Homo sapiens: one gene and its partners. The protein of the gene in region 1 purifies or fractionates together with the protein of each later gene. This does not show direct contact. Each region holds a gene or a part of one and is shown on either strand. Other genes may lie near its edges.

What was found.
Region 2: the proteins of ZNF695 (region 1) and ZYG11A purify together in Homo sapiens (affinity purification with mass spectrometry; 2 studies listed by BioGRID and IntAct, with this or other methods). This does not show direct contact.
Region 3: the proteins of ZNF695 (region 1) and HECTD1 purify together in Homo sapiens (co-immunoprecipitation; 3 studies listed by BioGRID and IntAct, with this or other methods). This does not show direct contact.

The regions. Positions count from the first base shown.
Region 1 is NC_000001.11:247,005,021-247,012,618, forward strand, and holds the start of ZNF695 (zinc finger protein 695), read right to left. Parts: upstream 3,038-7,598; 5' UTR 2,889-3,037; coding exon 2,886-2,888; intron 1-2,885. UniProt on the Homo sapiens protein: May be involved in transcriptional regulation.
Region 2 is NC_000001.11:52,852,684-52,859,792, reverse strand, and holds part of ZYG11A (protein zyg-11 homolog A), read right to left. Parts: intron 5,329-7,109; coding exon 5,163-5,328; intron 2,796-5,162; coding exon 2,044-2,795; intron 1-2,043. UniProt on the Homo sapiens protein: Probably acts as a target recruitment subunit in an E3 ubiquitin ligase complex ZYGA-CUL2-elongin BC.
Region 3 is NC_000014.9:31,197,775-31,204,883, reverse strand, and holds part of HECTD1 (E3 ubiquitin-protein ligase HECTD1), read left to right. Parts: intron 1-7,109. UniProt on the Homo sapiens protein: E3 ubiquitin-protein ligase which accepts ubiquitin from an E2 ubiquitin-conjugating enzyme in the form of a thioester and then directly transfers the ubiquitin to targeted substrates.

The DNA of each region.
Region 1 (7,598 bases):
TATAAACTCTGTGTAATACCTACCAAAATACCAATGACATTCTTCAGAGAAATAGAAAAACTAAGCCTAAAATTTTTTTGGAACCACAAAAGACTAAGAATAGCCAAAGCCATCCTGAACAAAAAGGAAAAAACTGGAAGAATTACTCTACTTGACTTCAGATTATATTACAGAGCTATAGCAACAAAAACAGCATGGTACTAGCATAAAACAAGACACATAGCTCTATGGAACAAAATAAAGAACCAAGAAAAAAATCCATACATCTACAGCAAATTAATCTGTGACAGAGGCACCAAGAACATACTTTGGGGGAAACAACAGTCTCTCAATAAGTTGTGCTGGGAAAAATGGATATTCATATGCAGAAGAATAAAACTTGACCCCTTGGCCGGGTGTGGTGGCTCATGCATGTAATCTCAGCACTGTGGGAGGCCAAAGCAGCAGGGTCACTTGAGGCCAGGAGTTCGAGACCAGCCTGGCCAAGGAGTCCGACCAGCCTGGCCAACACAGTGAAACCCTGTCTCTATTAAAATACAAAAGTTAGCTAGCTGTGGTGGCCTGCACCTGTGGTCCCAGTTTACTCGGGAGGCTGAGGCACGAGAATAGCCTGAGCCCAGGGGATGACAGAGTGAGACTGTCTCAAAACAAAACAAAACAAAACAAACAAACAAAAAAAACGATAAAAAACAACAACAAAAAAACTTGGCCCCCGTCTCTAGGCATATACAAAAAATCAAATCAAAATGGATTAAAGACGTAAATCTAAGACCTCAAACTATGAACAGAAAACATCAAGGAAACTATCCAGGACACTGGCTGAGTAAAGATTTTACAGCAGAGTGTCAAGTGATTATTCTCTGCTTTCTTCTCATGTGAAATGTTCAGAACAGAAAGAAAATATTTTTTAAAAAGCCACTCATGGCTGGGCACGGTGGCTCAAGCCTGTAATCCCAGCACTTTGGGAGGCCGAGGCGGGAGGATCACAAGGTCAGGAGATCGAGATCATCCTGGCTAACAGGGTGAAACCCTGTCTCTACAAAAAATACCAAAAATTAGCCAGGCATAGTGGCACACGCCTGTGGTCCCAGCTACTCGGGAGGCTGAGACAGGAGTATCGCTTGAACCCGGGAGGCAGAGGTTGCTGTGAGCCAAGATTGCACCATTGCACTCCAGCCTGGGCGACAGAGCGAGACTCTGTCTCAAAAAAAAAAGAAAAAAAAAAAAAGCCCATTCATTGCACTGTGAAAAAAACAAAAAAGAACCGTTAAAATCTTGCATCTGTTTGAAAAGCAAATAAAGGACAAATAAGCCGGGCGCGGTGGTTCATGCCTGTAATCCCAGCACTTTGGGAGGCTGAGGCGGGCGGATCACGAGGTCAGGAGTTCGAGGGCAGCCTGGCCAACATAATGAAACCCCATCTCTACTAAAAATACAAAAATTAGCCGGGCATGGTGGCGCCTGCCTGTATTCCCAGCTACCAGGAGGCTGACGCAGGAGAATCGCTTGAACCTGGGAGGTGGAGGTTGCAGTGAGCCCAGATTGTGCCACTGCACTTCAGCTTACCTGCCATTGGGCAACAGAGTGAGACTTCGTCTCAAAAAAAATAAATAAATAAAAAGAACAAATAGTTGATAATGTTGTGTTTGGAGAGACAAAGTTAGCATTTGGGAATGTAGAAAAGAAACTGGAAACAAGATTTCCTTCAGGCCCTAAAACAGTTAGGCTGGGGGAACAGAGTCCTGGATTTGAGGTCCTGCTTGCCATACATTTGAAAAATGCTGGGAAAACCAGTTCCCCTGTGGAGTGTTAGAATACTTAAATGGCAGACAATTAGACTGAGTGGCTTTGATGTCCTGGGATTCTATCTAAGGAATCCTAGCTAACTTAGATGAATTTCTTGTAAATTGCAAACTTGGAGAAAAACAAAACGTAGGCTTAACCAACCACTAAATGCTAATAAATCTCTTATTACATAATCAGGAAATTTCATCCTGGACAGTCCAAATAAGGTGACTGCATAATGGCAACCGATCAATTATTAAACGTGGTTGCTTCCTCGTGCACCTTATGAAGACCTTCCCTTCAAGTTTAGCCCCAAACCAGGGCTAGGGGCTTCCAGATTCATAAATCACTGTTTGCTGGAATAAACTCCTTAACATTTCAAAGGTGCTTCAGTTTATTTTTTTAAGAGGAGAAAGGAGACCGGGCGCGGTGGCTCACGCCTGTAATCCCAGCACTTTGGGAGGCCGAGGCGGGCGGATCACGAGGTCAAGAGATCGACACCAACATGGTGAAATCTCCGTTTCTAATAAAAATACAAAAATTAGCTGGGCGTGGTGGTGGGCGCCTGTAATTCCAGCTACTCGGGAGGCTGAGGCAGGAGAATCGCTTGAACCTGGGAGGCAGAGGTTGCGGTGAGCCGAGATCGAGCCACCGAACTCCAGCCTGGCGACAGGGCGAGACTCCGTCTCAAAAAAAAAAAAAAAAAAAAAGAGGAGAAAGGAACCCACAGACCACAGCTCCTCCCACCCAGGAACCTTTCACGGGAGTCGGGACTCTCCCGACAACCCCTCCGTCATCACAGCACAATCCAGGGAAGACGCGGCGCTGCGGGCGCGGGGCTGCCCCGGGAGGGCTCTGGGCCGTGCCGAAGTCACCAGGCAGAGACCGGACAGTCACCCAGCGGCCGGGATCCCGCTGCCGGCCCGGCCCCCACCTGCGCGGGACGGGACTGAGGGCCGAGCTGCGCCAGCGGGACTCGGCCGCACACTCCGGAGCCGACCGCCGGGAGGCCCGGGGCCGCCAGCGCTGGTTCCAGCCAATTCCAACCGATTCCAACCACCCCCTCTCCCTTCTCGGGACACCCTGCTCCGCACACTCACCATTTCCCAGCTTTTGGGGGTCCCAGCGTCCTCCCTATAAATCTCGCAATACCTGCAGGCCACAGGGCGATGGAGCCTGCGGCAGTCACCCGGGACTCTCCGAGAGGCAGCAGACGGGAACCCAGCACCCCGCCGGCCGCAAGGAGACAAAGGCCCCGCCAGATCCCCAAGGCCGCCCCTTCCTCTCTGGCTGCACGCCTGATTGGACAGTTCTCACGCTAGCGCCGCTGACTGGATGGGGCTCCAGGCCCCACCCCCTCAGGTCTTGAGTGACAGGAGGTGCGATCAGACACTGGGCCGAATGAAACAAGAGTGACAGGTTTTTGGGTGCAGCCCTTTTGAAGCGACATTCCTCACGGCACTTCGACCTGGACCCACCTGCCTGGGGGATAATGGCATTTAACCTTGTATATAAGATTATATCCATTCATAAGTTTTACACACACACACACACACACACACACACACACATATATATTTCACAAATAGAAACAATGAATGATAATTATTTTAAAGTTTCCGATTTCATAACCTTCCGGGCCTCTGGTCTTTTGACCAGGCAGCCTGAGCTGTGGAAAGTGAGGCAATCCTCTCAGGCAGCAATATGCAATATAAATAAAAGGTGAGCCACGCGTGTCATTTAAAATTTTCTAGGATCTGGCGGGTCGTGGTGGCTTACGCCTGTGATCCCAGCACTTGGGGAGGCTGAGGAGGGAGGATCACATGAGGCCAGGAGTTTGAGACCAGCCTGGCCAGTATGGCGAAACCCCGTCTCTGCTAAAAGTATTTTTAAAAATTAGCCAGGAGTGGTGGTGGTCGCCTGTAATCCCAGCTACTCAGGAGACTGAGGCAGGAGACTCGCGTGAGCCTGGGAAGCGGAGGTTACAGTGAGCCGAGATCATGCCTTTGCACTCCAGCTTGGGTAATAAGAGGAAAACTCCATCTCAAAAACAAAAACAAAACAAAACAAAAAAATCGGCTGTGAAGACATTTCCTCCTGCAGAAATTTAGCCAAACAGCTGAGTATGTCTTGAAGTCATTCTTTGGTTCTTAACAGGGCAAAGCTATTTTCTAAGACCTAAACCCTGGACTGGCCATGGGGCAAACCCTCACAACACATATGGAATTCATGCACAGTTAATGCATCTCTTACCTTGAACCAGTGGTTGCTACTAATTTTGTTTCTGATTCAGCCCAGTTCTACAACTGCCCTGCTATGCACAGGGCACTGTACTAGCTGCCCTGGCCTTGGTGAACATCATTGTGGGGAGAGGACTTTGCTGGGAAAAAGTTGCATCCCCCCAGATTGAAACCATTCCACTTTCCAAATTGGAGTAAAACTGAAAAGACCTAGGGGAGCACCCAAGGTTACAACATGAATGAATAGCTCAGAATATTTAAAGTCATTTGATGGTATCATGGGTGAGTGTGTCTCACTTCAAACAAAATAAAACACTACTGTTATTCTGAGATTCTAAGTTAGGATTTATGTAAAAATATATAATAATTTTTTTGATACACAACACACATACAAAAAAATACAAAGCATTCATGTAAAGCTCTGTGAGTTATTACAAAGCAAATACAGTTGTATAACCAAGAAATAGAACCAGCATCACTCATATCCCAACAATTACTATCTGCCTCCCTTATCTACCTCCCCAGTGGTAAGTAAGATTATTATTATTATTATTATTATTATTATTATTATTATTATTTTAAGACGAAGTCTCGCTCTTGTCCCCCAGGCTGGAGTGCAATGGCGCGATCTTGACTCACTGCAACCTCCACCTCCCGGAATCGAGCGATTCTGCTGCCTCAGCCTCCCGAGTAGCTGGGATTACAGGCGCCTGCCACCACACCCGGCTAATTTTTGTATTTTTAGTAGAGACAGGGTTTTACCATATAGGCCAGCCTGGTCTCGAACTCCTGACCTCAGGTGATGCACCCGCCTTGGCCTCCCAAAGTGCTGGGATTACAGGCGTGAGCCACTGTGCCCTGCCGATTTTTTTTTTCTTTTTTTGAGACAGAGTCTAACCCTTTCACCCAGGCTGAAGATGCTCTAGCGATCCTCCTACCTCAGCCAACTGAGTAGTTGGGACTACAGGCACACAACCACCACAACTGGTTCATTTAAAGATCTTAAGAGCTAACATTGTACATCACTTTTGCCTTTTCATACAAGCGTTTTATTACAGAAAATTTTAGCCATATACAAAATAAACGAAATAGTATAATAGACCCGTCACCCTGATTCAAGAACTACTCATCTTGTGCCATTTTTCTTTCATCTATGCTTCAACCCATTCTGCACCCACTGCTGTATTTTTTTAGTTCCTTTTTTTTTTGCATGAGGTCAGATGTACACACATTGAAAGGCACAAATCTTAAATGTACAGTTTTTAAAAAATAAAATATACCCATATAAGCTTCACCCCTTTTAAGAATGGAATATTTTCATCATTCTCAGAAAACTTCCTCGTATTTCTTCCCAGGCAGTTTTTTTCTACTTTCAGAGGCTGTGTTGATTTATTTTCACTCTAGGTTCATTTTTGCCTGAAGCCATACAATATGCATTTTATTCCACTTTGTCTCATATACCCAGCTTGTGAGATGCAGTCAGGGTGTGTGCTTCAGTGGCTTGTGTCTTCGTACTGCTGGGTAGCATCCTGTTGTATGAATATCCGCTCTACAATTTGCTGAACCATTTTTCTGTTGATGGACATTCGGGTTGTTTCCTATTTTGGGTTTTTATGAACAAAAGATCTATAAATATTCTTGTACAAATACTTGTTATATTTAATGTAATTCCTTTTTAGAATTTGAGTGACGTGTGTTTTTAGTGGGATGACTGGTGATGTTGAGTACCTTTTTATATGCCTGTTGGCCATTTGTATGTCTTCTTTGGGAAAAATACTCAATCTGTTTCATATTTCTGAATCGGTTGTTACTATTCTCTTTTTTGAGATGGAGTCACGCTCTGTCGCCCAGGCTGGAGTGCAGCGGCGTGATCTCAGCTCACTGCAACCTCCACCTCCTGGGTTCAAGTGATTCTCCTGCCTCAGCCTCCCGAGTAGCTGGGACTACAGGCGCGTGCCACCATGCCCAGATAATTTTTTGTATTTTTAGTAGAGACGGGGTTTCACCGTGTTAGCCAGGATGGTCTCGATCTCCTGACCTCGTGATTGGCCCGCCTCGGCCTCCCAAAGTGCTGGGATTACAGGGGTGAGCCACCGCGCCTGGCCAGATGCCACATTTTCTTTATGCATTCATTCATCAAAGAACACTTGGGTTGCGTCCACGTTTCCGCTTTCATGAATATTCCTGCAATAAACATGGGTGTGCAGGTAAGTTTTTCAGGTCCTGCTTTGCATATTTTGGATAGACACCCAGAAGTGGAATCGCTATATCATATAATAATTCCGTTTGAGAAACCTCCGTACGGCCGGGTGCGGTGGCTCACGCCTGTAATCCCAGCACTTTGGGAGGCCGAGGAGGGCAGATCACCTGAGGTCAGGAGTTCGAGACCAGCCTGGCCAACATAGCGAAACCCCGTCTCTACTAAAAATGCAAAAATTAGCCGGGTGTGGTGGCGTGTGCCTGTAATCCCATCTATAGGGAGGCTGAGGCAGGAGAATCACTTGAACATGGGAGGCGGAGGTTGCAGTGAGCCAAGATCACACCATTGCACTCCAGCCTGGGCAACAGAGCAAAACTCTGTCTCAAAAAGAAAAAAAAAAAAAAAGAGAGAGAGAAACTTCTGTACTATTTTTTATAGTAGCTGGATCAATATTTCCCCACTAGCAGTGCACAGAGGTCTCAGTTTCTCCACATCCTAGAGACCATTTGTGGGTTCTTTATTTGCTTGATAGTGGCCATGTAATGGGTGTTAGCAAAGGAAATCTGGTAGATTTGCTTTACATTTTTATTTTATTTATTTATTTATTTATTTTTTTGAGGCAGGGTCTTACTCTTTCACCCAGGCTGGAGTGAAGTAGTGCAATCTTGGCTCACTGCAGCCTCAACCTCCTGGGCTCAACTGAACCTCCCACTTCAGTCTCCCGAGTAGCTGGGACTACAGGCACCTACCTGCCAACACACCCAACTAATTTTTTTTGTTTTGTTTTGTTTTGTTTTTGTTTTTTTTGAGACGGAGTCTCGCTCTGTCGCCCAGGCTGGAGTGCAGGGGCGCGATCTCGGCTCACTGAAAGCTCCGCCTCCCGGGTTCACGCCATTCTCCTGCCTCAGCCTCCCCAGTAGCTGGGACTACAGGTGCCCGCCACCAAGCCCAGCTAATTTTTTGTATTTTTAGTAGAGACGGGGTTTCACCATGTTAGCCACGATGGTCTCGATCTCCTGACCTCGTGATCTGCCCGCCTCGGCCTCCCAAAGTGCTGGGATTACAGACGTGAACCACCGCGCCCGGCCTAATTTTTGTATTTTTATTATAGGTGTGAGCCATTGCGCCTGGCTGCTTTGCATTTTTCTAAGGATTTGTATATCACTGGTCAGTTTTTTGCCCACTTTTAAATGGCATTATTTGCTTTTTCTTTGTTTAGTTTTTGTAGTTGTTTATATATATCCTGTCAGATATTTGCTTTTCAAATATTTTCTCTCATTCCTTAGGTGGGATTTTGACTCCACTGAATGTTTCCTTTGACATGCAGTTTTTTAAGTTTAATGTAGTTCATTCTTTTAGTCTTTTTTGTTGTT
Region 2 (7,109 bases), about 190 Mb from region 1:
GCCAGGAGAATCACTTGAACCCGGGAGGCAGAGGTTGCAGTGAGCCGAGATCACACCACTGCACTCCAGCCTGGGTGACAGACCGAGACTCTGTCTCAAAAAAAAAAAAAAAAAAAAAAAAAAAAGGCAATACACAAACAGATAAAAATAAAGAGCCCAGCTGGGCGTGGTGGCTCACACCTGTAATCCTAGCACTTTGGAAGGATGAGGCAGGCAGATCACGAGGTCAGGAGATCGAGACTATCCTGGCTAACACGGTGAAACACCATCTCTACTAAAAATACAAAAAATTAGCCAGGCGTGGTGGTGGGTGCCTATAGTCCCAGCTACTCTGGAGCCTGAGGCAGGAGAATGGCGTGAACCCGGGAGGCGGAGATTGCAGTGAGCAGAGATCGTGTCACTGCACTCCAGCCTGGGCGACAGAGCAAGACTCCGTCTCAAAAAAAATAAAAAATAAAGAGCCCAGTAACAGACTCACACATATACGGACACCCGATTTTCAACAAAGATGCCAAGTTTATCCAAGGGGGGAAGAGATAATCCTTGGTGGTGAGCCAAGATCGGACCACTGCACTCCAGCCTGGGCGACAGAGCAGGACTCGACTGTCCCAAAAAAAATTTGGGGATCTCAGCTCACAGCAGAGGTTGCAGTGAGCCAAGATTGTGCCACTGCACTCCATCCTGAACAACAGAGTGACTCTGTCTCAATAAAAAATTAATTAATTAATTAATTAAAATACAACAATTGCTAACTTCAAATCAAAAGAATAAAATGTTAACACAACTAATGAGTATACAAATCACTTTATTCTCTTCCCCTAGGAAGAACTAAGGAGGTATTATTATAAAGAAAGAGTTACTTTAAAACAACAGCTCTGGGCCAAGCATGGTGGCTCATGCCTGTAATCCCAGCACTTTGGGAGCCCAAGGCAGGTGGATCACCTGAGGTCTGGGAGTTCGAGACCAGCCTGACCAACATAGTGAAACTCTGCCTCTACTAAAAATACAAAAAATTAGCCAGGTGTGGTGGTGCACACCTGTAATCCCAGCTATTCGGGAAGCTGAGGCAGGAGAATCGCTTGAACCCGGGAGGCGAAGGTTGCAGTGAGCCGAGATTGCGCCATTGCACTCCACCCTGGGCAACAAGAGCACAACTCAGTCTCCAAAAAAAAATAATAATAATAATCGGGCCGGGCGCAGTGGTTCATGCCTATAATCCCAGCACTTTGGGAGGCCGAGGCAGGCGGATCACCTGAGGTTAGGAGTTCGAGACCAGCCCGGCCAACATGGTGAAACCCCGTCTCTACTAAAAATAAAAAACTAGCTGGGCATGGTGGCACGTGCCTGTAGTCCCAGCTACTCGGGAAGCCGAGGCAGGAGAATCACTTGAACCCACTATATCTTCTTTTTTTTTTGAGACTGCGTTTCGCTTTTGGCCAGGCTGGAGTGCAGTGGTGCAACCTCCACCTCCCAGGTTCAAGTGATTCTCCTGCCTCAGCCTCCCAAGTAGCTGGGACTACAGGCGCCCGCCAACACACCGGCTAATTTTTGTATTTTTAGTAGAGACCAGGTTTCACCATGTTGGCCAGGCTGGTCTCGGACTCCTGACCTCAAGTGATCTGCCCGCCTTGGCCTCCCAAAGTGCTGGGATTACAGGTGTGAGCCACCATGCCCAGCCTGTATCTTAATATTATATTCTCACGTGTGGCCAGGCACAGTGGCTCATGCCTATGATCCCAGCACTTTGGGAAGCCGAGGCAAGCAGATCACCTGAGGTCAGGCGTTCGAGACCAGCCTGACCAACATGAAGAAACCCAATCTCTATTAAAAATACAAAACTACTCCATCTCAAAAAATAATAATAATATTCTCACAACCTTCCACATAGTAGGTACATAATAATCATTAATTATTAAAAAAGCTCTTTAAGGATTTTTTTATCTGTCTCTGTAACCCTAATACCTAGTAAAAAGTCTGGTCTATAGCACGAGTTTAATAATGTTCTAAACAAATGAAACAAAACTTATTCAGATAAGAACAAACCCTCAAGCCTTGCTTTGTAGTAAAGAAGTCAGAAGAGCCAGCATCCGTGGCCAATAGTCCCACAAATTGCATGGCAGGCCGCAGTCGTATAAACAGTTCTACAGCTTCATCAGTGATGCAATTGCCCCCAGAAATATCCAATGACACAACATTGGGCAGGATATCCTTCTGCTGTAGCAAATGAAAAGCTAGGTCTGATTTGAGTTGCCTGTGATCAGAAATATCAAGGTGAAGCAGACATTTAAGTTCTCTAATGACTGCAAGAATTTGTGATTTGGTCATGGCCAGGCATTTCAGATAGTGCATTGTGAGAGACTTCAATCGATCCTTACAGGTAAGCAGTGCAGAAATATCAGTGACTAGAGTATTAGAGATATCTAAGCTTTCCAGTCTTGGTAACTGAGAAACATTAGCCAGGTCTTCAGTATGAAAACAAACATTAAAAACACTTAAAATGCGAAGACCAGTGAGCTGACTAAAGAACAGTAATCTTGAATTTTGAGGGATGCTTGTCGAGTCTAACAGGAGACACTGGAGGTTTTGCTGGATCCACCTATTGCTGCAGAGTCCACTTATGATGTCTGGAACTGGGAGGTCAGCGTGCACTGCAGTAGCATTCAGTTCAATGAGCTTATGACGGCAGAAGGCTTTTATGAATGCAGCTGTAGAGATTTTAGCTTTTTGGATATTGACCAGCTTCAGTTTCATTTGGTTGCCTCGGAAAATGCTGGCTGTTCTGTCAGTCAGCTTGCCTATGAAAGAACCAGAACCAACTTGTAATGACAACTAGATCTCATGTCTTTCCAGGATAAAATGTGGCAAAGAATTAAGACAGATGTTAATAATAACAATAATGACAACATTTACTGCTCTGTGCTAGCATTGTTCTAAACTCCTTTAATAAGATTATTATCTCATGTATTCTTTGCATTAATACTATAAAGGAATTATTGTTACTACTACTATGTAGCTGAGGAAACTGAAACTTGAATAGGTTAAGTAATTTATCCAAGGTCACCATCAGAATCAGGAGTCAACCCCAGTTTGGCTGTAGAGCCCAAAATTTTATCTACAGTAACCTTGCTCACAGAAAGGAAGAACAAAATAAAATAGGTAGATAAGTACAGGATATACAATATACAAGTAGCACTACTAATATTATTTTTAACCAAATTAGTAGATAATATTTGACAAGTCACTTACCTCTCTGGGCCTCATTTTCCTCATCTGTAAAACGAATGGGTTGTCCTATTTTTCATTTACTACACATATTTTTTTTTTTTTTTTTTTTTTTGAGATGGAGTCTTGCTCTGTCACCCAGGCTGGAGTGCAGTGGGGGCTCACTGCAACCTCCGCTTCCCAAGTTCAAGCGATTCCCTTGCCTCAGCCTCCCAAGTAGCTGGGACTACAGGCACTGCACCTGGCCTACTACACATCTTCTATGGTGAGATTCCATGTTATGTAACAGGCACGTAAGGTAATCAGACACCTGTGACCACAAGGAATTCAGTATAGGGAGGCATACCAGGTAAATACCAACACCATAAGTCATTAAAGAAATGCAAATTAAAAGCACAACAGATACTATTTCACATCCACTAGGATGGCTATAATCAAAATGTCAGATGAGTCTTGGTGAGAACGTGGAGAAATTAGAACCCTTGGACACTGCTGATGGGAATGTAAAATAGTACAGCCACAAACAATAGTCTGGCAGTTCCTCAAAAAGATAATGAGTTACCATTTGATCCAGCAATTTCACTCAGAGAAATGAAAACTTATGTCCACATAGAAACTCTTACACATTCCTGCAGATTCATATGGAGCAGAGAAAGTTTAGAATAAATTTTTTAAGTTTAAAAATAAAATTTGTACACATATCTTTATGGTAGCATATTATTCATAATAGCCCAAAAGTGAGAACACCACAAATGTCCATCAACCGAAAAACAGATAAATACAATGTGGTATGTCCATACAGTAGAATATGCGACTATAAAAAGGAACGAGTACAGATATACATGTTGCACAATGTGAGCCTTAAACATGCTAAATGAAAAAAGTTCGGCACACAAGGCCACATATTGGATGATTTAATTTATATTAAATGTTCAGAATAGGCAAATCCATACATAGAGATGGAAAGTAGACTTGTGGTTGCTTAGGGCTGGAGGGATGCGGGAAAAGGGAAATAAAATCTAACGGGCACAAGGTTTCTTTCTGAGGTGATGGAAAGTTTGAGGTTCTAAAATTGATTATGGGCCAGGCACGGTGCCTCACGCCTGTAATCCCAGCACTTTGGGAGGCCGAGGCAGGCAGACCACTTGAGGTCAAGAGTTTGAGACCAGCCTGGCCAACATGGTGAAACCCCATCTCTACTAAAAATACAAAAATTATGACCGGACATGGTGACTCACATCTGTAATCCCAGGTTATAAATAAATAAATAATAAAATGCCCTTTTTTTCCTTTATTTTTTTAGTGGAGTTCTTTAAGCCCAGCTACAATGGGAGGTAAGACTCATAACCATAATGAAAAGAATGGTAAACAAGACTACAGCAAGAGCATTTTGAAAAAGCTAGAGAGCAGGCCGGGCACAGTGGCTCATGTCTGTAATCCCAGCACTTTGGGAAGCCAAGGCAGACGGATCATCTGAACTCAGGAGTTCAAGACCAGCCTGACCAAAGTGGTGAAACCCCATCTCTACTAAAAATACAAAAATCAGCCAGGTGTGGTGGGCGCCTGTAATCCCAGCTACTCAGGAGGCTGAGGCAGGAGAATCGCTTAAACCCAGGCGGAGGCTGCAGTGAGCAAAGATTGTGCCACTACACTCCAGCCTTGGCGACAAGGGTGAAAATCCGTCTCAAAAAAAAAAACAAAGCTAGAGAGCAGATGGATGAGTGATAACTTTACGTAAGTGAAGAGTGGAAAACCAAGTCAATAGCAGGGCTAGCCTAGAAGACAATTTCCATCATGGAATCCCAGAAAGAGTGAGTCTCAACTTCCAGACAAATGAAATGGAAATACTTTGTGAGAATCACAATAGAAATTGTGTGTAAAAGTGCTTTTCAAATAGTAAAGTACTGCAAGAGCTGACTTTAGAGAAGCCTTATCACTACCTTGCCAAGTCATCACCCTGAGAAATCGCTCGGCTACTTCCTGAGGGAAACTCCAATGCTCCGGAAGGCACAGTGTTCCATCAGGTCTTTCAGAACACAATTTCTCCAGGTTAGCAATCAGGACATTCAGGCAGATGTTGACCAAAGTGTAGGGAGATGCCTCTTCCTAGCAAACAAAACCCCAAACAAACTTTGTTAGAATACATCTGCAACAATTCAACATAAAACTGGTCATGCCATACCTATTCCACTTGATGAGAGTATCTGAAGATACATCCTTCATACTCTAGTAATGATTTATATGTAACGAAACCACCTCATTCCTACTGTTAACTGAATGGAAAATTTAATCTGTTGTCCTTTCTGTTGTACAGCTGTCCCTCAAAATCTGTAGGAGATTGGTTCCAGAACTCTCTGACCAGTATCCACAGATGCTCAAGTCTCCTTATATAAAATGGTGTAAGGTTTGCATATAACCTATGCAGACATTCTCATATACTACAAATCATTTCTAAATTACTTATAAACACTAATACAGTATAAATCCTTTATACTGTATTGTTTACATAATGACAAGAAAAAAGTCTGTACATGTTCAATACAGATGCAGGTATTTTTCCCCAAATATTTTCCATCCAAAGTTGGCTGAATTCACATATACTGAACCCGTAGTCAGAGAGAACATACTGTATCTTGAAAAACATTAAGTTCTTTTTTTCTTTTTTTTGAAACAGGGTCTCACTATCGCCTAGGCTGGAGTGCAGTGGCACAATCACAGCCGAATGCAACTTTGACTTCCCCAGTCAGGTGATCCTTCCACTCAGCCTCCTGAGTAACTGGGACTACAAGCCCATGCCACCATGCCCAGCTAATTTTTTGTAGGTTTATTATAGAGTCCCACTTTGTTGTCCAAGCCAGTCTCGAAACTCATGGTATCAAGAGATCCTCCCACTTCAGCTTCCCCAAGTGCTGGATTACAGGCATGAGCCACCACACCCGGCCCCAATATTAAGTTCTCTTAACCCTTTACTTATCACCTGTTCTGTGCTAGCCACTGAAAATACAGAGGTGGGTAAGACATGGTTCTAGTCCCTTTAAAGCTAAAGTTTAGTGAAGAATACAAACAAGAAATCTGACAATTTCAATGCAACATTTGGGACACTCCAAGCAGAGATTACATGGTCATTCACTCAAAAAATATGTATTCATTGATTATCATGTGTCTATTCTCAAAACTGTTCACAACCTCAAACAGTGATACAGTCAAGGTCCTATGAAAGTGTAAGAAACTGACAGTAAGGTGAGGCTATAAAGGCATGTACAGATAGTCCCTGACTCATGATTTTTGGAATTACAACGGTATAAAGTAGAAACCATACTTCAAATTTTGAGTTTTGATCTCTTCCCAGGCTAGTGACATAATATGATACTCTTTCAATGCTGGTCAGCAGAGTGAGCTGCAGCTCCCAGTCAGCCACACGATCACAAGGGTAAACAACCAATACTTGATATCTTCTTGAACACTATGCCTGCTAAACCATCAACAAGTGTCAATGGGCTCCAATGCTTAGAAGAGCAACTGGTGACCCTGTTGATGTAGCTTCTCCATAATCCAGCAATTAACTTTTAGTTCAATGCTTCAAACATTCTTCAGGCCCAGAGTGCTTTCAACTGTGTATGTTTACAGTGAGTACACATATGACCACTGTTTTTCACTGTCAGTATCAATAAATTCCACGAGATATTCAACACTATAATGAAATGGGCTTTGTGTTAGATGATTTTCCTCGACTGTAGGCTAATATAAGAGTTCTGAGCACATTTAAGGTAGGCCAGACTAACCTATATTTGATAGTTTAGGTGTCTTAAATGCATTTTGAACTTAGAATATTTTAAATTTACAAGGGTTTTATTGGTATATAACCCTATCATAAGGCAAAAAATGCC
Region 3 (7,109 bases), on another chromosome or scaffold:
TTGGCAAAATTTTTAAAGTACCTTCATTTTTGATTATTGAATAACTTTCAGTTGTAACTCTTGTTAAAACAGTACTAAGATAAAAATCCTTACTAATAAAATTTCCAAATTACAATTAGTTAGTGGTCCATTTATTTCCATTAGTTTTTGTCATTGGCAGAATTTTGAGTATGTAAGAATAACTTAGCCCTTAGTTGACACTTGTTTTAGCAGGATTTATAGTAAAGTAGATTTTTTAAAATTTATTTTTATTTTTTATTTTTTTCCTCATCCTGACTCTCAAGTTAAAAATTGCGTTCATAGATTTCATTAGAGGTAACCTGAAAGTTACTTTTGGTATTTTAAAAATCATACTTGTCAGTCAAGTCAATTGTCATTTCGTAGCTTCTGTTTAGTACTAATATGTAGTAGAAGTATTTGTTATGACATTTAAAAAAGTGTTGCCCGATCATTAAAAAGTCAGGAAACAACAGGTGCTGGAGAGGATGTGGAGAAATAGGAACACTTTTACACTGTTGGTGGGACTGACTGTAAACTAGTTCAACCATTGTGGAAAACAGTGTGGCGATTCCTCAAGGATCTAGAACTAGAAATACCGTTTGACCCAGCAATCCCATTACTGGGTATATACCCAAAGGATTATAATAATCATGCTGCTATAAAGACACATGCACACGTATGTTTATTGTGTCACTATTCACAATAGCAAAGACTTGGAACCAACCCAAATGTCGATCGATGATAGACTGGATTAAGCAAACGTGGCACATATACACCATGGAATACTATGCAGCCATAAAAAATGATGAGTTCATGTCCTTTGTAGGGACATGGATGGAGCTGGAAACCATCATTCTCAGCAAGCTATCGCAAGGACAAAACACCAAATGCATGTTCTCACTCATAGGTGGGAATTGAACAATGAGAACACTTGGACACAGGAAGGGGAACATCACACACCGGGGGCTGTTGTGGGGTAGGGGGAGGGGGGAGGGATAGCATTAGGAGATATACCTAATGTAAATGACAAGTTAATGGGTGCAGCACACCAATATGGCACATGTATACATATGTAACAAACCTGCACGTTGAGCACATGTACCCTAAAACTTAAAGTATAATAAAAAAAAAAAGTGTTGCCATGTTAAAACAATTTAAATGAAATTTTTAAAACATAAAATTTATCTCTATGTAAAATCCTTCCATCCTAACATAACAGCTGTTATTTTTTCCATTTTCCTTTCTAGGCTTTATTCATATATAGTATGATGTAATTTTTAAGAGACTGGGGCCTCACTATGTTGCCCAGTCTGGCCTCGAGCTCCTGGGTTCAAGCGATTCTCCTGCCTCGGCCTCTTCAGTAGCTGGGACTATAGGCTGTGCCACCACACCTGGCTTTATAATGTAATTTTAAGGAAATGAACCTAAAGTTAAGTCAGATATGATTTACTATATGAAGATACAAGAGTATTTCAAGTTGAAGGGGTTAGCCGTGTTTGGGGTAGTGTACCAGTAACCTCCAAAAACTAGACATTTGGTTTAATTTTGTGACTGTTTTGTTTTTAAACATTAGTTTGCTTTTCATTCTATAGCCAGATTTTCTTGTTGTTACAAGGGAAAATTGTCCTGGTTCCTTCTTGAAACTAGTGAGGGAGGCATAGTGAGATGGAAAGAATGGGCTGTGGCATCAGAGACTTGGGTTCAGATTCTTGGTCTGTTGTGTTCATTAGCCTCTGAGAGCCTTACTTTCTTCCCCTGTAAAATGGCAGTAGTCTTTTTTTCTTTTCTGTTTTTTCATATGAAGTCTTGCTCTGTTGCCCAGGCTGGAGTGCAGTGGTGCGATCTTGGTTCACTGCAACCTCCGCCTCCCAGGTTCAAGTGATTCTCCTGCTTCAGCCTCCCGAGTAGCTGGGACAACAGGTGCGTGCCACCATACCTGGCTAATTTTTGTATTTTTAGTAGAGATGGGGTTTCACCATGTTGACCAGGATGGTCTCCATCTCTTGATCTCCTGATCCACCTGCCTTAGCCTCCCAAAGTGCTGGGGTTACAGGTGTGAGCCACCATGCCCAGCCAGTAGTCTTTTTTCCAGTGGGCCTTCTTGTGAGGATTAAAGGAGAGAATGTATGTTAAGTGTTTTGAGTAAAGTGGGCTACCCACTGATGCCATCATTAATAAATATCTAATTTTGAATTTTATTTTAGCACTTTATTCCATGAATAAAGTGATTGATTTGGAAAGGTCTTTTAAAATTCTTTTAAACAATCAACTCCCAGCAGGCAAAAAAAGCAAGATGATGTGCATATTTTGAATATTGGTAAAAATCTTTCATACTACCTTGATTTCATAAAGTAGTAGCAAATAGGACTTAGTTCTGTCTAATAAACCAAAACATGCCTGTATGTCCTGATAATATGTTTGCTTAATTAGCTTGTCTTAATAGTTTCACATCTGTTTAGTCAGGAAAGGCAGGTGGTGTGGTAGAAACAGTGGCCTCTGCAATGGGATAGACTTGGGTTCAGATACCTGCCTTTTCCACTGAATAGTTGTGTGATAGCCTTTGAAGTCTGTTTCCTCATCCTTGCAGGATTTTTCTGAAAATAAATGGGATAATAGTCAAGGATTTCTTTTTCCTTTAACTTAGTATTGTACATGGCTCTCCACTTTTTTTTTTTTTTTTTTTTGAGGCAGAGTCTCGCTCTGTCACCCAGGCTGGAGCGCAGTGCTATTTTAGCCATGCCCAGCTAATTTTTGTATTTTTAGTAGAAACGAGGTTTCACTGTGTTAGCCAGGATGGTCTCAATCTCCTGACCTTGTGATCCACCCATCTCAGCCTCCCAAAGTGCCGGAATTACAGGCGTGAGCCACCGCGCCCGGCCGGCTCTCCACTGTTTGTACCCATTTTGACAGTGTCTTTCTGAAGTTCAACGAATATAACTTCTTCTATGATGTGTCAGTGCTTCTTATTAATGCCTGAACTTATCAAGGTAATGCTCCAGAAAGTAAAACACGTTCAAGATTCGTTTTTGCTTTTACCTGATGTATCGAGTTCTAAAATGTAGTAATGTAAACATGGCCGGGTGCGGTGGCTCATGCCTGTAATCCCAGCACTTTGGGAGGCTGAAGTGGGCAGATCACTTGAGGTCAGGAGTTCAAGACCAGCCTGGCAAACATGGTGAAACCCCATCTCAACTAAAAATACAAAATTTAGCTGAGCACTGTGGCATGTGCCTGTAATCCCAGCTACTTGGGAGGCTGAGGCAGGAGAATCTCTTGAACCTGGGAGCCGGAGGTTGCAGTGAACCAAGATTGTGCCATTGCACTCCAGCCTCGGTGACAGAGTGAGACCGTGCCTCCAAAAAAAAAAAAAAAAGTAAGTAATAGTAATATGAGTTATTAGCTAATGAGCATTTTGTATTCACATCAAAATAGGTGATCATCATATGTATTAATGTTATAAATATGTATTATGGGCATTTCTAGATCTTGCTACTAAATCTGAATATAATTTGAAAGTTATGTCCTCTGGAAATTGAGCATCTCAGAAGATGCTTTTAGGTGCTAGTAGGCTTTATTTAAAAAATAATGATGTCACTTAATTTTGAGGGCACAAAAGGATATACAGTAAAAAGTCCGTTGTCTTCCCTTTCCTGTCTCCTGGTTACTTGGTTCCTCTTCCCAGAGGAAACCACTGTTAATCATTTCCTAGTGTATCCTTCAAGAGATATCCAAGGAACATTGTTTTGAGTCTGGATTCCAAAGTTATTGAACACAGTGGTAAAAAAATCTTTTTTGATATGTTTACACTAAAAGGTAAAAAAATACCTGTACAGGAACAAGTTTTTTAACTTTAAATTGTCTACTTTATGTTAGGTCTTGGAAAGATATGGTGATGACCAAAACAAATACAGCACCTTATGTGCCTAATAGTCTAATAGGGAAAACAGATAATTGTGGGGAAAAAATGTGGTTACAAACTGTGTTAAATGTCATGAAGGAAAAGCTCAGGGTACTGTGACAGCATGAAGCAGGGACAAGACCTGGAGAGGTGGGGATGGGCAGAGTGGTCTTTGGGGAAGTGGTTTTTCTTTTTTTTTTTTTCAAGACAAGAGTCTTGCTCTGTCACCCATGCTGGAGTGTAATAGCGTGATCTGAGCTCACTGCAACCTCCACCTCCCAGGTTCAAGTGATTCTCCTGCCTCAGCCGCCCCAGTAACTGGAATTACATGCACACGCCACCATGCCTGGCTACTTTTTGTATTTTTAAGTAGAGATCGGGTTTCACTATGTTGGCCAGGCTGGTCTCGAATTCCTGACCTCAAGTGATCCGCCCGCCTTGGCCTCCCAAAGTGCTGGGATTACAGGTGTGACCTTTTTTTTTTTTTTTTTTTTTTAAATTAGATGGAGACAAGGTCTCACTAGGTTCCCCAGGCTGATCTAGAACTCCTGAGCTTAAGTGATCCTCCCGCCTTGGCCTTCCAGAGTGCTGGGATTACAGGCGTGAGCCACCGTGCCTGGCCAAGAAAGGGGAAGTGGTTTTTCCTAGAGCTAGGAAGGATGAGTAAGGAGAGATAGGAAGTGGGAACAAAACAAACAAATGCTTGTAGACTTGATAGGAGGCTATGATCCAGAGAGATAGAGGGTTTTGTGATAAAAGTAGAAAGTTGAATATATTTGAGAGAGATTTGGAAGGCAAGATAGTCAGGATTTGTCGAATGATTAAATATGAGAGAGGGAGAAGGAAGTGTCGTGGATGACTCAGGTTACAATGGATGATGATGCCACTCACTGAGAGAGAACACTGGAAAGAGGACCATGTTTGAGAGATTGAGATCATGAGTTTGGGTTTGGATATGTTGAGTATGAGGTACTTTTGAGACATCTCAGTGGAGATATTAAGTAAGCAGTTGTATAAATGGAAATTGGAGGTGAAGCCTGGATTAGAGAAAAATTTTAGAGTCAAGCACCTGTGGAGGTTAATTGTGGCCATGGGATGTGATTGAGATCTAGGGCAGTGATGCTTAAACTCTATGGTCTCAGGACTTCCTTAAGCTCTTAAAAATTATTGTGGATCCTGAAGAACTTTTGTTTATGTTAGTATGCTTACTGCTATTTGCCATATTCAGAATGAAACTGGGAAGTTGTTTTTTTTTTTTTTTTTTTTTTTTTGAGATGGAGTCTTGCTCTGTCACCCAGGCTGGAGTGCAGTGGCACAATCTTGGCTCACTGCAACCTCTGCCTCCTGGGTTCAAGTGATTCTCCAGCATCAGCCTCCCTAGTAGCTGGGATTACAGGTGTGCGCCACCGTGTCCAGCTAATTTTTGTAGTTTTAGTAGAGACGGAGTTTCACCATGTTGGCCAGGCTGATCTTGAACTCCTGACCTCAGGTCAGAACCCAGGAGGCGGAGCTTGCAGTGAGCCGAGATCGCCCCACTGCACTCCAGCCTGGGCGACAGAGCAAGACTCTGTCTCAAAAAAAAAAAAAAAAATTATAATAATAAACCCCTTACATGTTAAAATTTTTTTGTGAAAAATAACTTTTTTAAAAGAAAACATTTTGGGAGAATAGAGGCATTAATTTACATTTTTGCAAATCTCCTTAAAGTCTGCCTTAATGGAAGATAGCTGGATTCTCATATCTGCTTCTGCATTCAGTTTGTTGCATTATGTTATTTTGATTGAAATATATGAAAAAATCATCCACAGATGTATTTGGGAAAGGGAAGAAGAATATTATATTTTTTAACGTAATCATGGATATGCTTCTTTGATAACATGTCAAAATTCAACAAGTGATAGTTTCTTAAGGATTAGTTATAATGTGGATTCTGTTTTTTTTTTTTTTTTTTTCTTCGAGGCAGATTCTCGCACCCAGGTTGGAGTGTAGTGGTGCGATCTTGGCTCACTGCAACCTCCACCTCCTAGATTCAAGCAGTTCTCCCGCCTTAGCCTCCTGAGTAGCTGGGACTACAGGCGCAGACAACCACACTGGAATAATTTTTTTTATTTTTAGTATTTTATGTTGGTCAGGCTGGCCTCGAACTCCTTACCTCAAGTGATGCACCTGCCTTGGCCTCCCAAAGTACTGGATTACAGGCATGAGCCACTGCACCCTACCAGGATTAGTTATAATGTGGATTCTGATATCATATCAGTGAACTTATACTCACTCTGTTACATTAAAATCTGATGGTCTGTCTTATACTTTGAGTGACTGTTTTACCCATGTTTACTTTTGCAAAAATTATGCATTGGTCATGTGGAAAATATCAGTCCACTGAGTTACACAGATTTTCCAAATGTGGACATATCTCATTCCACAGTGCCAAAAAGTCTTATTTGTCAATATGACTACCACTCTCATCAGACAAGTTTTTAAATATTCAGAAGCTTTCAAGCTCATGGTGTCAAATACAAGTTTTCCAAAAATGTCATTTTTGCTTGTAAAGTTGAGTGTTATGATTGGCAACAAATACAGTTGATCGTTTTCCTTGAAATGAAAGGCATACGTGATTAAATTTTGAAAAAATGTTTGCCAGATAGCCAAGTCTGAATGATCAGTTTGTCTGATAGTCCTTCAAGTAAAAATGGTGTTGCAAGAAAAAAGTGGCTAGTTCAGTCCTCAAGTATGTACTTTGCCATTATTCTTCCGTATGCAGTGCTTTATAATTAATTCCCATTTCCTTTAAGTAGAATATTGAAAAGATGTATCTTCAGGGGTTGAGATTTAGTAAATTTAATAATTTTGCTTCATCTAGTTTATTCTTTAGTGAAACTGGCTTTTTTCTTAATACCAGTGCTTGGCAGTGAAGAATACAGTTATCTAGTACAGGTTAGGGCTACTGCCTTGATTCATGTTAAAGCACCTGCAGTTTTATCCACTATTGCTTTTGCATCATTAGTGCGCATGTCAACACAGGAAAGAAAGTGATTCAAGAAGAGAAAGGGCAATTGTTTTGAATACTAGTGAGAGGTCAAGTAGGGGTTAGATGAAAAGATGTCCTTTAGATTTAGCAACATTCTCAAGGTCATTGATCTTAATGAGAGCTGAGTGGAGTGGTGGTGAGGGGCAGATCTGAATGGGTTGAGGAGTGAGTGGAACATGAAAT